3 separate regions of the Homo sapiens genome follow, and regions 2 and 3 are each linked to region 1. The links come from fine-mapping of genetic effects on gene expression. A gene starts in region 1. Each other region holds a variant in brackets. All regions are shown on one strand. Distances are between the middles of the regions.

What was found. PIP is the estimated chance that this variant, and not a neighbour inherited with it, causes the effect.
Region 2: its variant is the best candidate, but not a certain one, in a credible set for the expression of PRR16 in whole blood (INTERVAL, PIP 0.60).
Region 3: its variant is the best candidate, but not a certain one, in a credible set for the expression of PRR16 in monocytes after LPS (Quach 2016, PIP 0.84).

Annotation. Positions count from the first base shown.
Region 1 is chr5:120,462,469-120,466,712 of GRCh38, forward strand. It overlaps PRR16 (proline rich 16), which reads left to right and starts at 1,832. Exons shown (of 2, transcript NM_001300783.2): 1 at 1,832-2,177. The coding sequence starts at 2,019. RefSeq lists a silencer at 1,751-1,800 and an enhancer at 2,206-2,707.
Region 2 is chr5:120,068,597-120,072,840 of GRCh38, forward strand. No RefSeq gene overlaps it. Among named protein-coding and RNA genes, the nearest start is that of PRR16, 390 kb to the right of the region's middle. The variant T/C (reference allele first, on the strand shown) is at 1,939.
Region 3 is chr5:120,403,662-120,407,905 of GRCh38, forward strand. No RefSeq gene overlaps it. Among named protein-coding and RNA genes, the nearest start is that of PRR16, 59 kb to the right of the region's middle. The variant A/G (reference allele first, on the strand shown) is at 2,388.

The DNA.
Region 1 (4,244 bases):
ATATTGTGGGAGGATTATTTTGTCACTGTGAGGGAAATCACAATTTCCTTTCCTCCTCTCCCATATCCTTGTCTAAAGTCACTTAACTTTGAGTTTGGCGGCTTTCTTACACACTTGCCTACTATTAAGAGTCAAAAATAATTCCAATCTAGAAGAATAGTACTTTCTCTTTTCCCCTACCATTAGCTTTTGCTAGTTTTGACAATTTTGGGGAGTCTGTAAACCTGATATAATTATTTTAATGTTATATTTTTTATAAAATAAAGAATTTGAGGAGAAAAAGGATGTTTTAAAAATCTAATTCTCCCTACCTCAGAGAACTCAAGCATATTACTTATTTCACACTTTTAATCATTTCTTCTCTTTTTCTTTTCTCCAGTTTGCATGCTGCAGACTTGTTCTTATAATCTCTTCTTAAGTCTTTCCAGCAGCATCTGCTTTTCACCTTTTCTCATTTCTTCCCCTGATTTTTCAATGCAGTTTTCAATGGTTTTCTTTTGACACCACTTTCAAATTTCAATTTTTTCTTCTGTTCTCTTTCTTCCTCTATATTCCACATATGACTTCCAAAGGTTTTGTAAAGATGAATTGTCCAGGATTAAGAGAGTGATTGATTAAGAGCCTACAGAACTGGGAAGAGGAGAGCTGCCAAGCTTTTCTTTATGTGTAGCACAGTGGAGCTACCCAGAGTGTGAGAAGCAAGAAACAGAGAGCCTTGCTAAGGCACGACGAAAAGGGGAAGCCTATTAAAAGAATGATCTGGAGGAGTGTGCAGTGAAGAAAATAAAGTAGAGCCAGCCTGCTGGGTCAGTAGCTAATAGCCCATGGGTTTACAACTAAGGAAGTTAAAATTCTAGCTAATGAGAATTGTAGACACCTACTGAGAGTGAACCGAAGGCTTCCTATTAACTTCCCTTCTTGGGTCTTTTTGACAGAACAGTCAGAAAGTTGTTTCCTATTTGTTTAGTAGCAAAAGAGTTGAAATGGAGGTTTAAAAAATGATGAAAGAGAAGTTGGAGGCAATCTCTTACTCAGCTCCTTCACGAGGTCCAAATACGATGTCTCCCCCACTCCACTCAAAATGTAAATCAGCATAGGTCACAAAAAGAGGAAGGACAGTTAAAAAAAAAAAAAAGAGTTGGGCCAAATAAGACATACAGCCAAGATGACTGAGACAATCAGAGAGGATTTGGGGTGTGGGGACTTCAAATTAATAAATCCGGTATTAGCTTTGTGGAATTAGCAGGATTAGGGTACCTCTTTCAAGAACACTGGTTGAATTTCATGGTTTCAATAGATGACCATTAGCTGTTATGTGCACCCCCCCCCCCCTTTTTTCTTGCAGAAGTTAAGAAGTCTGCTTAACTCGCAGGTCACCAAGAGATTGATTAAAGGCCTCTGGACATCATTTGGGTTTGGATAAATCTGTAGGGCCACTTTACAGACTGTCTCCAACTCCTGATCCCACTGTGGTTCTTTCTGAATTGATCCAGGTCCCTGCTAGCAAGTGAAGCAGAAAGAATCCAGGCTAGTTGTGAGATGACATACAGCAAGCAGGCTGAGATGATGGGGACATTTCAGAACCAAGAGGAGGGGGCGGGCAGGACACGGACTTGTCTCCCCCACCTTGATGCCAAGGTGGCATCTGGGAGATATCTCGAAGGGCAACGTCGAGGGGACTGCAAGCGTCAACCCTGGCGCGGCAGCACGGCGCCCCTCTCCGCGGGCGGGGAGCGAGCGCGTGTGCGCGAGAGCGCCGGGCGGCGGCGGGAGGAGGCGCAGGCGCGCTGCTCGCCCGTCTGCAGCCCCGAGCCGAGCGCCGCGTCTCGGGAGTTGATGGCAGCACCACTGTGCGGCCGCCCGGCCGAGCGCGGAGCGCAGCCACTCGCCGCTGCCCAGGGAGCGCCCAAGATGTGGGGGGACCGGGGCGGCAGCGGCCGTAGCAGCGCCAGGGACGGGGGCACGCAGCAGCCTCCGCTCGCCCGCCTGTCCTGACCTGCCTCGCTTGCCCCCAAAGAATGTCAGCCAAGTCCAAGGGGAACCCCTCCTCGTCCTGTCCAGCCGAGGGACCGCCGGCAGCCTCCAAAACCAAGGTGAAGGAACAGATCAAGATCATCGTGGAGGATTTGGAATTAGTCCTGGGCGACCTGAAGGACGTGGCCAAGGAACTTAAGGAGGTGAGAGGCGCAGGGGTGGGGAGGGAGTTCGGCACCCTTCGACCCCTCCGGGGTCCCCTTTCCGATTTTCAGCAGGGACAGCCAGATTTCCAAACTCCTGGGAAACTACAGAAAAGGCGCCTGCAGACGGACTTTCTTTGCTCCTGGAGTCCTGAGAGGAGTTGTTGTTGCACTTTTTAATTTTTTTTTTTAATCAGGAAGAAATCAACTAGTGTTTTAATCGATGGACCTGGGCTGGTGGGAGGGATGAACGCACGCGTGTCTCTGAATCTGTGTGTGTGACGACGGGGGAGAGGGTTAGCTGGGGGTGTGTCGGCAGAGGAAGTCGTGAGCAGCCCGGCTGGAGCGTGCAAGATGCTCCTCTCCTGCCCTATTGCTTCCCCAGAGTCCTTTGGCAAGTCCGCTGCCTATCTGTCAGCCTCCCCAAGTCAGGGCTGAAGAGGGGCCGGGTTCTGGGCCCTGGGCCAGATCAGGGAGGGCAGCCTGGAGGAAGCTTGGCTCAGACTACCCTCCCTGTCTCTCGAGCCTCGCTGTAGGGAAGGCGACCCGGGCTGCTGGCAGCCTTGGGGCTAAGGAGGGGGTCTGGGACTTTCTCACTTTCTCAGTTTCTGAAGCATCCCCTGCTCTCCTCCGAACGTCGTTACCAGTAACTCTGGGCCTTCCCGCCACCCTACCTCTGCTTCCTTCCTTCCACCCTGTCGCCACTTGGCATTGAACCCGAGAAGCAGGACGCGCAGGAGAGTGTATGTGTGGCCGGGGTCTTGCCATTGGCGTCCTGGCTCTCTGCAGCTGGGACTGCTTCGGTTCTTCCCCGCTTTTCCTATCCCACTTCGGTTCAGCCCTACTCCCGCCCGCCCCTAGCCCCAGGTGATCCAGATGGAAAGAAGCAGAGAAGGTGTCAGGGCTGAGGCTGCGTAACTCAGGCGGCGGCTCCGGGCGGGGGCGGGGGCCGGGCTGGGAGGGGTGGGGTCTCCCGAGCCAGGCTGGCTGCCGGCGGCGTCGCGGAGCTGGTAGCAGAGTCCCAGCGCGCCGCTCACTACTGAATGGGGTCCTGGTGCGGTTCTCGGTGAGGGAGTCCGCAGCTCCGCTGCGTGAGAGCTAAGACTAGAACTTCGAAGGTGGCGGTGGCTGCAGCGGGAAAAGGGGTGGGGCGTAGTCTAGGTCCAAAATTGTAATCCTGTTTCTGAAGCCAACGGGGAGGAGACTGAGGGTTGTTTGGATGACTGGCCTCTAGAGATTAACCTCCTGTATTCAATTTCCAAACCAAATTTCAAGAGCCCCCTCGTCTTCCTCCCCTTCCCCCGTTACCTCTATGAACTGAACTCTGCATTTGTTACCTAATGCAAGTCTGTTAAAATGGGCCATTCGTCACCAGGGTTAAGTTTGCCAGTGGTAAATGTCGTTCCTGTAGGTTACTCCACAGACAGAACATAATTAGTACTGAGGTCCTGAGAGTGGCTGTTAGTATACATAGATTCAGGGATAAAACTTGTTCGTGTTTTCAGGGTTTCTGTAGGATTATTGCTTCACAACTGGTTGACAGATGGTGGGGTTATGCATTGAAATTCAATTCTAAAAATGCTGTCCCTTTCTTTGTTATTCTTTTATATGACATCTTTGGTAGACTGTGTTTTCATCTGAAACATGGCGTTTTAAAAAATGAAATTGGGCATGTTCCTTTCGGCAGAATTGTGCTTAATAGTTGGTGAGGTTTCTATGGGCGATGTGGAAAACCTACAGCGGCACAGAAACGTATTTACTGTTTTCATGAGGCTGAGACTAAAAGAAAGGTAGTTAAACAGAATTCTGCATCTGTGAGCCATACTTCCTTATGTTTTAATGTCAGTCCACTCACTTTTTTTGCACAGAATAAATGACAAGAAACTGCACATGGTCCTGGTTTTGCTTTGCATCATTATTTATGGACATTTAGAGATTAAGTAGTGAAATCTTCAACCTCCCTGTGGTTATTGGTTAGAATCACAAAAATGTAAGTCAGGAAATCTGTTGATACCACTTTCTGTGTCTTCATTACTGAAGATTTTTTAAGGTTAAAAAAAAGGTTGT
Region 2 (4,244 bases), 390 kb before region 1:
ACTAAATTTAGACAATTTTCTTGCCCCAGTTTTATTTCTTTAAGTTATTGATCAACTCAGACGAACTGTAAATTGGACTAGAAGATACAAAGTAATAACTTAGAAATTCAGCTATAAAATAAAAAAGAATCTACCTTTTGTGTTATGGAGAAATTTCATTGGGTTAAAAATATGTTTAGTCTCATGCAGAAAACTCTATCTTCCCCTTGTGCTAGTGCCTATGCACATAATCTGTTTTGATTGATTGCTGACCCTGCAACACTACCAGGAGTACTCCTTAGCCATTTTAGAGAATAATTTAAACCTTCAATAAGGCAAAATACTTCGAAACGAGAGAAGCAATTAACATCCAATATCCAGAAATGAATTTGTGAATTCAGAAATATGAAATTTGTTTTTGTTGTGAGAGACTTTCAATTTCAAAATTTCACTTGTATATTTTGGTCTAGAACTTAACTTCCATTCCTCAAAGAAAATTGTCAGTATATCCAAATAAAACATATACTTGGAAACCCTGAAATGTTTTATCTCCTGGTTTCTTAACTTGGATCCTGGTTATTTTCCAACCAGTAACTTGTTTCCTGATAATTCATATGATGTAAATATAAAGTACTTAATTCTCTTGTATTTTTAGCTAGGTAACATTAGCTTGAAATTTTATGTCTGATTTTGGGTGAAAGAACCACTTAGAAAAAGAAAGACATGCATGTGAAAGCCAGCATCTAAAAATAGTTTCTAAATATGAAGCAAAGAAGGTACTGTAGTCTTCCTTATAATTAGACATGTGCCAGAATGTTGATGTGGAGGCATGAAACTCAGTTATGAAAAGAGGAGGAAAATATGGACAAAAAATACTGAGAAAAAAGGGTTTTATAATTTAATTTTGAGGATTTTAAGACAATTAAATACTCCTAAGTAGTCTTTATTTCTACTTTATTTAAAAGATTCCAATTTGAACACACACACCCTGAGAAATTAAAACAGTATGATATTTCTAAATGTCAAATGTATGTTTCCCAACAGAAAAATTAAACATGCAGTTGGTTTGATATAAAATAAGAATCATCATGAAATTATGTGACTGATATTTGCAATTTTATTCAGTAAAACATGTCTGTGTTTCAGATATAGTGTATACAATTAACACAGTAATTCTCATATGGTATAGAATGAGTAGTTGTATATTTATATACTTGTTCTCCTTCTGTGAGTGTTGTAAAGATTATTAGTTCTTGACTTTCAGCATTCTGAGAAATGCATGTTTTACAAAATGTAAAAATTCACTACAAAATCCATAAAATCTACTCATTTAAAAATGTATTTAAGTCCTTTAAAGTTAAAAAAACAAAACCAAACCTTTTTACTGGCAAAGTTTTTCAACTGAGGGGCATAAAAATGTAGGAGCTATACTAAGACTTGTTTTTATTTTTTAATGCAAATGAAATTAATAAATTTAGTATTAAAATATATTTTGTATTTCTGTGAAAATATAAACAATTATGAACAGTTATGTCTGTCTATACACGGGTGGTGCTGAATTTAAAATAGGGATAGCAAAATGGTGAATTTGGGGAAGAATCTAGTCAGCATATGTGTTCTCTGAGTAGAAATTTCAAGAAAAATAGCATCAATTTGTACTAGCTGTTTCTTGGAATCTTATTCCTTTAGAAGTTGTCTATTCTCTCCCTCTGTACAACGCTTTCTTTTAAAACACTAAATGCTTTTCTTTCCCATGAAACTCTTAACTTCAGTGATGTTGGCTAATCTTTGGACACTGAAGCCTGTTAGCCTCTTTTAGAAGTTTTCAGGATAATCCAGTGGCAAAGGAGTGTCACTATGAAATGTTGTCAATGGCCTATGAATATAGAATATAGATAATTGGATGCCATCTACATCCAATCGTTTGATTTCCAAATCAAGAATGCATACTGATTCCCC[T/C]ATACCATTCCTTATTTAAAAAAAAGACTTTCATGGCACTGAAATCTCAAAGAAATTTATTATATTCATATTTGACTAAACTTATGGGTATAGTGTATATTAAAAGGAAGAATGTCTTACAAAAATAAAGTATATTTCACATAGGTACTTATCGTAATTATCTTTGAAAACCAAGAACCTGCCATTAAAGTACATCATAATAAGGGTGACTCCGTCAGAGGATAAAATAAAAGTAGACTTCTAATCATCTAAGTTATTCAATTCAATAGTAGACAGTAGAACAACTACCTAGAGCCAGAACTTATTCTGCATTTGATAAGCATAATCCCTTATCCCTCCATTTCTCTTTGTTTTTGCTGAGAATCATAGAGATAAATATAATTTATTAGATAGATGATTAATAAATGGTTTGGCCCAGGTGATTTAATTGTTCTTTCTGTCCTTGGTCCTTATTTTAAAATTTTACTTTATTAGACTTACTATATCTGTGCTCTTTGTTGTCTATTATCTAAAAGCCAACTTGGAATTAGGCAGGGCATAAATAAATATAATTTGATGATATGGAGTATATTGGAATAAAATGGAAACTTATTCCATTACCTTAAAAATTCAAAAGCTAGGCTGGGCATGGTGGTTCATGCCTGTAATCCCGGGACTTCGGGAGGCTGAGGCCTCAGGCCAATCACCTGAGGTCAGGAGTTTGAGACCAGCCTGGTCCAACACAGTGAAATGCTGTCTCTACTAAAAATACAACTATTAGGCGGGTGTTGTGGTGTGTGCCTGTAATCCCAGCTACTCAAGTCTGAGGCAGGAGAAACACTTGAACCTGAGAGGTGGAGGTTGCAGTGAGCTGAGATCATGCCACTGCACTCCAGCCTGGGTGACACAGTGAGACATCATCTCAAAAAAAAAAAAAAATTCAAAAATTAGTTGTAAAAAGAAAGCCCAAAAAGTGATGTCCAGAGAAAGGAGTTCTCAGGGTTCAAGGAGCTGAAACGTCCATGGGAGAAGAGTAGAAACACTATAGCTCCAGATGCTGGACTTTTTGTTAGTGTAACAGTTGCTGCACATCTGTGATTATTGTAATTTACAGATGTCTGGAGCCAGGGTTATAGAAATTGTTCACACTGTGTATCAAGTCTTTTTGCCTAAATTCATAAAAATGCTGTAAAGGGGAGATCAGGTGAATTTGAAAATAATGGTTTTTTTAAGTAAAAAATTCAGAAAATCTGATAGAAGCTTTATTTACAGCTGCCCTGATTGAGGATTAAACATTGCCTTGCCATATGGGAAACCTCTAATCCAAATCAGGAGTTTGACCTTTGAGCTCCTTGGGCCATAGGAAATTGAGAGACAGGCAAACAGTTATCTCTTGTTTAATAAACCTTGAATATGACTGATTTTTCTTTCCAAAAAGTAAAACTCTATGTTTCATTAAAATATGTCAAATTCCAGGAAGATCTGACTGACATGGGAGTGAGATGGGCATCTATCTGTCTTTAATTTTTCTGAGCTAAAATATTTGACCATAAGCAGTGCCAAAGAGAACATCCTAAATCTTACTTTGTGGAAAACTTGTGTCAATCACTATCACACAGGGCTGCCCAAGATTATGGCAGTTTGGATAAAAACACACTGCTTCTGTCTCTGTTGCTTGTGAATTTCTTGGCCACTCTGTATGTTTTCTTTTTTCCTTTTATTAAATGTTCTCATGAAAAAGGCAGAGATCTGACTATATTTGTAGACTAGTGCAGTCATCCCTCAATTTCCCTGGGGGAGTGTTTCCAGGAACCCCATGAATACCTAAATTTATGAATACTCTCAATCCTTGTTATAAAATGGCATACTATTTGCCAATAATCTTTGCACATCCTCCTGTAAACTTTAAATACTCTCCAGAATACTTATAATACCTAATACAATGTAAATGCTGTATTGTTGAGGGAATAATTCAACAAAAAAGTATGTACATATTCAGTACAGATGCAATTTTTTTCCAAATATTTTCAATCTGTACTTGGTTGAAACTATGAATGTAGAACCCACAGATTCAGACAGCCAACTGCACTCGGTCCATGACACATTATTACAAAATTGCATTTCTGGTGTAATTTTTCTCTTCTCAAAATTTGGCCAGTGAAATTTTATTTCTGAAATTTGGCTTTAGGAAATCCTTTTTACTGTAACACCTAAGTCGCTTTCTCCAACCTGGTCTTTATTAGCAACAATTCTGATATTTTGACATCTTTTGTATGCCTTTTTCTATTGGTTCCGAATTACTTTGAATTGGTTCAATTCTGTAAACA
Region 3 (4,244 bases), 59 kb before region 1:
ATACATGCTACACCTGGATGATTCTTGAAAACACTATACTAAGTTACAGAAGCCAGTGACAAATGCCACATACAGTATTACTGACTATTAAATGTTCAGAATAGGCAAATCTGTGGAGGAAATCCGATTAGAGATTTGTGAGGGATAGGGATGCTGTGGAGAGGCAATAGATATGGAGCTGATTTTAGGTGGGAAGAAAATTTTCTAAATTTAGATTGTGGTAATGGTTTCACAACCCTATAAAATATTTTAAAACATTAAAGCTTACACTTTAAATTGGTGAATTGCATGGTATATGAATTATTTCTCAATAAAGATGTTTAAGAAAGATTGAATGAACAAATTATACTCAAAATAATGGTAAATATTGAAGATATTTAAAAATAAATATACTAAGTATGTTAGTTTGTTGTATGCTTAATGAAAGAAAATGTAAACTATTCTAATTGCTATATTAATTAGATATCGCCAACCATTTCTAATGCAGGTTCTATGGAGGCCACTAGCAAACAACAGTTTGAATGTGTAACCAGTTTGTATCATTCCTTAAACAGTCTGTAATTTTTATTTCCCAACCTTGAAGCAGGACTTGACTTTTCATCTTAGCCCTCTGACTTTACTTTTTAAAAATTTTTGTATTTATTTCATGATCTCTGAAAAAGATTGAGAAGCCTTCTGACTTCAAGTCCACTACCACATCATTAGTGGGCTGTGTGTAGATTTAAGTAAAAAAAAAAGCGGGGAGAGGAGTCATATTTAGGAGAGGAGATAAAAAACGTTTATAACAAATTCCGTGTGGAAAATATTTTAGTAAATATCTCATTTGGCACTTCAATCCTCCCATAAATTTCTTCTTCACCTGTCACATGTTTTTCACCTCTCTGTCAACTTTCCTTCCACAGTCTAAACCTATTTTTTCCTGCCCAATTGCTTATTCAGAATTTCTTTGTGTTATTACAGTGCCAGGATACACTGTTACTACAGTGCCACCCATAGCCCTGGACATATAGCTTCTCTCTTAGTCTGTCTTGTGTTGCTATAACAGAATTCTATAGACTGGATAATTTGTAAAGAAAATAAGTATATTTCTTACCATTTTGGGGGCTGAGAATTCCAAAAGCACGGTGCTTATATCTGGTGAGAGCTTTCATGCTGCAATATCCCGTGGCAAAAGAGCAGAAGGGAGAGCAAGCATATGCAAGAGAGCAGAACATCAGGGGCTGGCCTCACTTTTATAACTACCCTGCCATATGATAACCAACCCACTCTTGTGGTAACATTAGTCTATTCATGAGGGTGAAGCCCTCATGACTTAATCACTTTTTAAAGACCCCACCTCCAAATACCATCATACTGGCAATTAAATTTCAACATGAGTTTTGGAGGGGACATTCAAATCATAGCAGATTCCAAGTTTATCATGTTTTACCTCAATAAAACTATTGGTATTTTGTTACTATACACACACACAGAAAATTTTTTTTTCTACATCCAGATCCTTATAAATAAATTAATGAATATTATTAAGGTATTTTGAAAGGCTAAATTTATTAATATGAATAATTAACATGTTCATGGTACAAAAACTTTGCAATTTGACCAGTTTTATTTATTAATATTTATTTATTAACACTATGTGTCAGATATCATGGTAGATGCTGAGTATATCCAAATATGGAAGTCATAGTCCTTGCAAATAATTGAAATTCACAATTCAGCTCTTTCACAAGCAAGATCTGCATTTACATCCCCTCAACTCTGAAAGGAAACTAAAGCAATATGAGAAAACTAAGGCTCTGGAAAATCTTGATGAGTCATGCAACTACTGTCCAGATTTGTACTCACAGTTTCTAATAATAAATGTGTGGGTTTTTTTTTAATTGGGCCAGTGAATCACACTGACTATAAAAGTTTGCATACATTATCTTATTTAGGTTTCATATAATCCCATTTTTGGCTTCAGAAACATTTAATCAGTATATCTTGGATAGGTATCATTAACCCCTGTATCTGTCAGGCCAGCTCATGTTTTTGCATCTATGCATTACCTTCATTCCTCCTGCAATAGCTACTTCGTTAATGAACTCAAGCAAAATCTGAGATGGTTGTGTAAGAAAGGCTAATTGATATCAGTAAAGTGGTTTATTTTGTTGATTACTGACCATATCCTCAGCAGCTGGATGAACACTGAGATAGGACAAAGTTTCTCCCAGACTGTACTCATTTCAAGAAAAACCTTTCCAAATTTTTATCAACATTCTATTCTTATTTACATAAAAAAGAACCCACTATTGCTAATTGATATGGTTTGGCTGTGTAGCCACCCAAATCTCATCTTGAATTCCCCCATGTTGTGAGAGGAACTCAGTGGGAGGTAATTGAATCAT[A/G]GGGGTAGGTCTTTCCTGTGCTATTCTTGTGATAGTGACTAAGCCTCATGAGATCTGATAGTTCTATAAGGGGCAGTTTCTGTACACAAGCTCTCTTTTATCTTATCTGCTGCCATATGAGAGGTGCCTTTCACATTCTGCCATGATTGTGAGGCCTCCCCAGCCATGTGAAACTGTAAATCCAATAAACCTCTTTTCTTTGTAAATTGCCCAGCCTTGGGTATGTCTTTATTAGCAGCATGAAAATGGACTAATACAGTAAATGAGTACCAGTAGAGTGGGGCACCACTGAAAAGATACCTGAAAATGTAGAAGCCACTTTGGAGCTGGGTAACAGGCAGAGGTTGGAACAGTTTGGAGGGTTCAGAAGATGACAGGAAAATGCAGGAAAGTTTGGAACTTCTTAGAGACTTGTTGAATAGCTTTAACCAAAAGGCTGATAATGATATGGACAATTAAATCCAGGCTGAGATAGTCTCAGATGGAGGTGAGGAACTTGTTGGGAACTGGAGCAATGATGACTCTTGTTATGTTTTATCAGAGAGACTGGTGGCATTTTGCCCCTGCCCTAGAGATTTGTGGAACTTTCAACTTGAGAGAGATGATTTAGGGTATCTGCAGGAAGAAATTTCTAAGCAGCAAAGCAGTAAAGAGGTAACTTATGTGCTGTTAAAGGCATTCAGTTTTAAAAGGTAAACTAAACATAAAAGTTCAGAAAATTTGCAGCCTGACAATGTGATAGAAAAGAAAATCCCATTTTCTAAGGAGAAATTCAAGCTGGCTGCAAAAATTTGCATAAGTAACAAGGAGCCGCATGTTAATCCCCAAGACAATGGGGAAAATGTCTCTGGGACATGTCAGAGGTCTTCACAGCAGCTCCTCCCATCACAAGCCCAGATGCCCAGGAGGAAAAAATGGTTTTGTGGGCCAGGCCCTGGGTCCCTGTGCTGTGTGCAGCTTAGGGACTTGGTGCCCTGCCTCCTAGCCACTCCAGCTGTGGCTGGAAAAGGCCAACATGAAGCTCAGGTCGTGGCTTCAGAGGGTGCAAGTCCTAAGCATTGGCAGCTTCTACATGGTGTTGAGCCTACAAATGCACAGAAGTCAATAATTGAGGTTTAGAAACCTCTGCCTAGATTTCAAAGGATGTATGCAAATACCTGAATGTCCAGGCAGACACATGCTTCAGGGGTGGGGCTCTCATGAAGAACCTGTGCTAGGGCAATGCAGATGGGAAATGTGGGGTTGGAGCCCCCTCACATCATCCCTACAGGAGCATCACCTAGCGGAGCTGTGACAGGAGGGCTGTCATCCTCCAGACCCCAGAATGGTAGATCCACTGACAGCTTGCACTGTATGCCTGGAAAAGCCACAGACAGTCAACACCAACCCATGCAAGCAGCCGGGAAGGAGGCTGTACACTGCAAAGCCACAGGGAGCTGCCCTAGACCATGGGAGCCCATGTCTTGCGTAAGTGTGACCCAGATGTGAGACACAGAGTCAAGGGGATCATTTTGGAGATTTAAGATTTGACTGCTCTGCTAGATTTTGGACTTTCATAGGGCCTGTAGCCCCTTTGTTTTGACCAATTTCTCCCATTTGGAATGGTTTTACTTACCTGTAGCCTCATTGTATCTAGGAAGTAACTAACTTGCTTTTGATTTTACAGGCTCGCAGGCAGAAGGGACTTGCCTTGTCTCAGATGAGACATTGGACTGTGAACTTTTGAGTTAATGGTGAAATGAATTAAGACTTTGGGGGACTGTTGAGAAAGCATGATTGGTTTTGAAATGTGAGGACATGAGATTTGGGAGGGGCCAGGGGTGGAATGATGTGGTTTGGCTGTGTCCCCATCCAAAT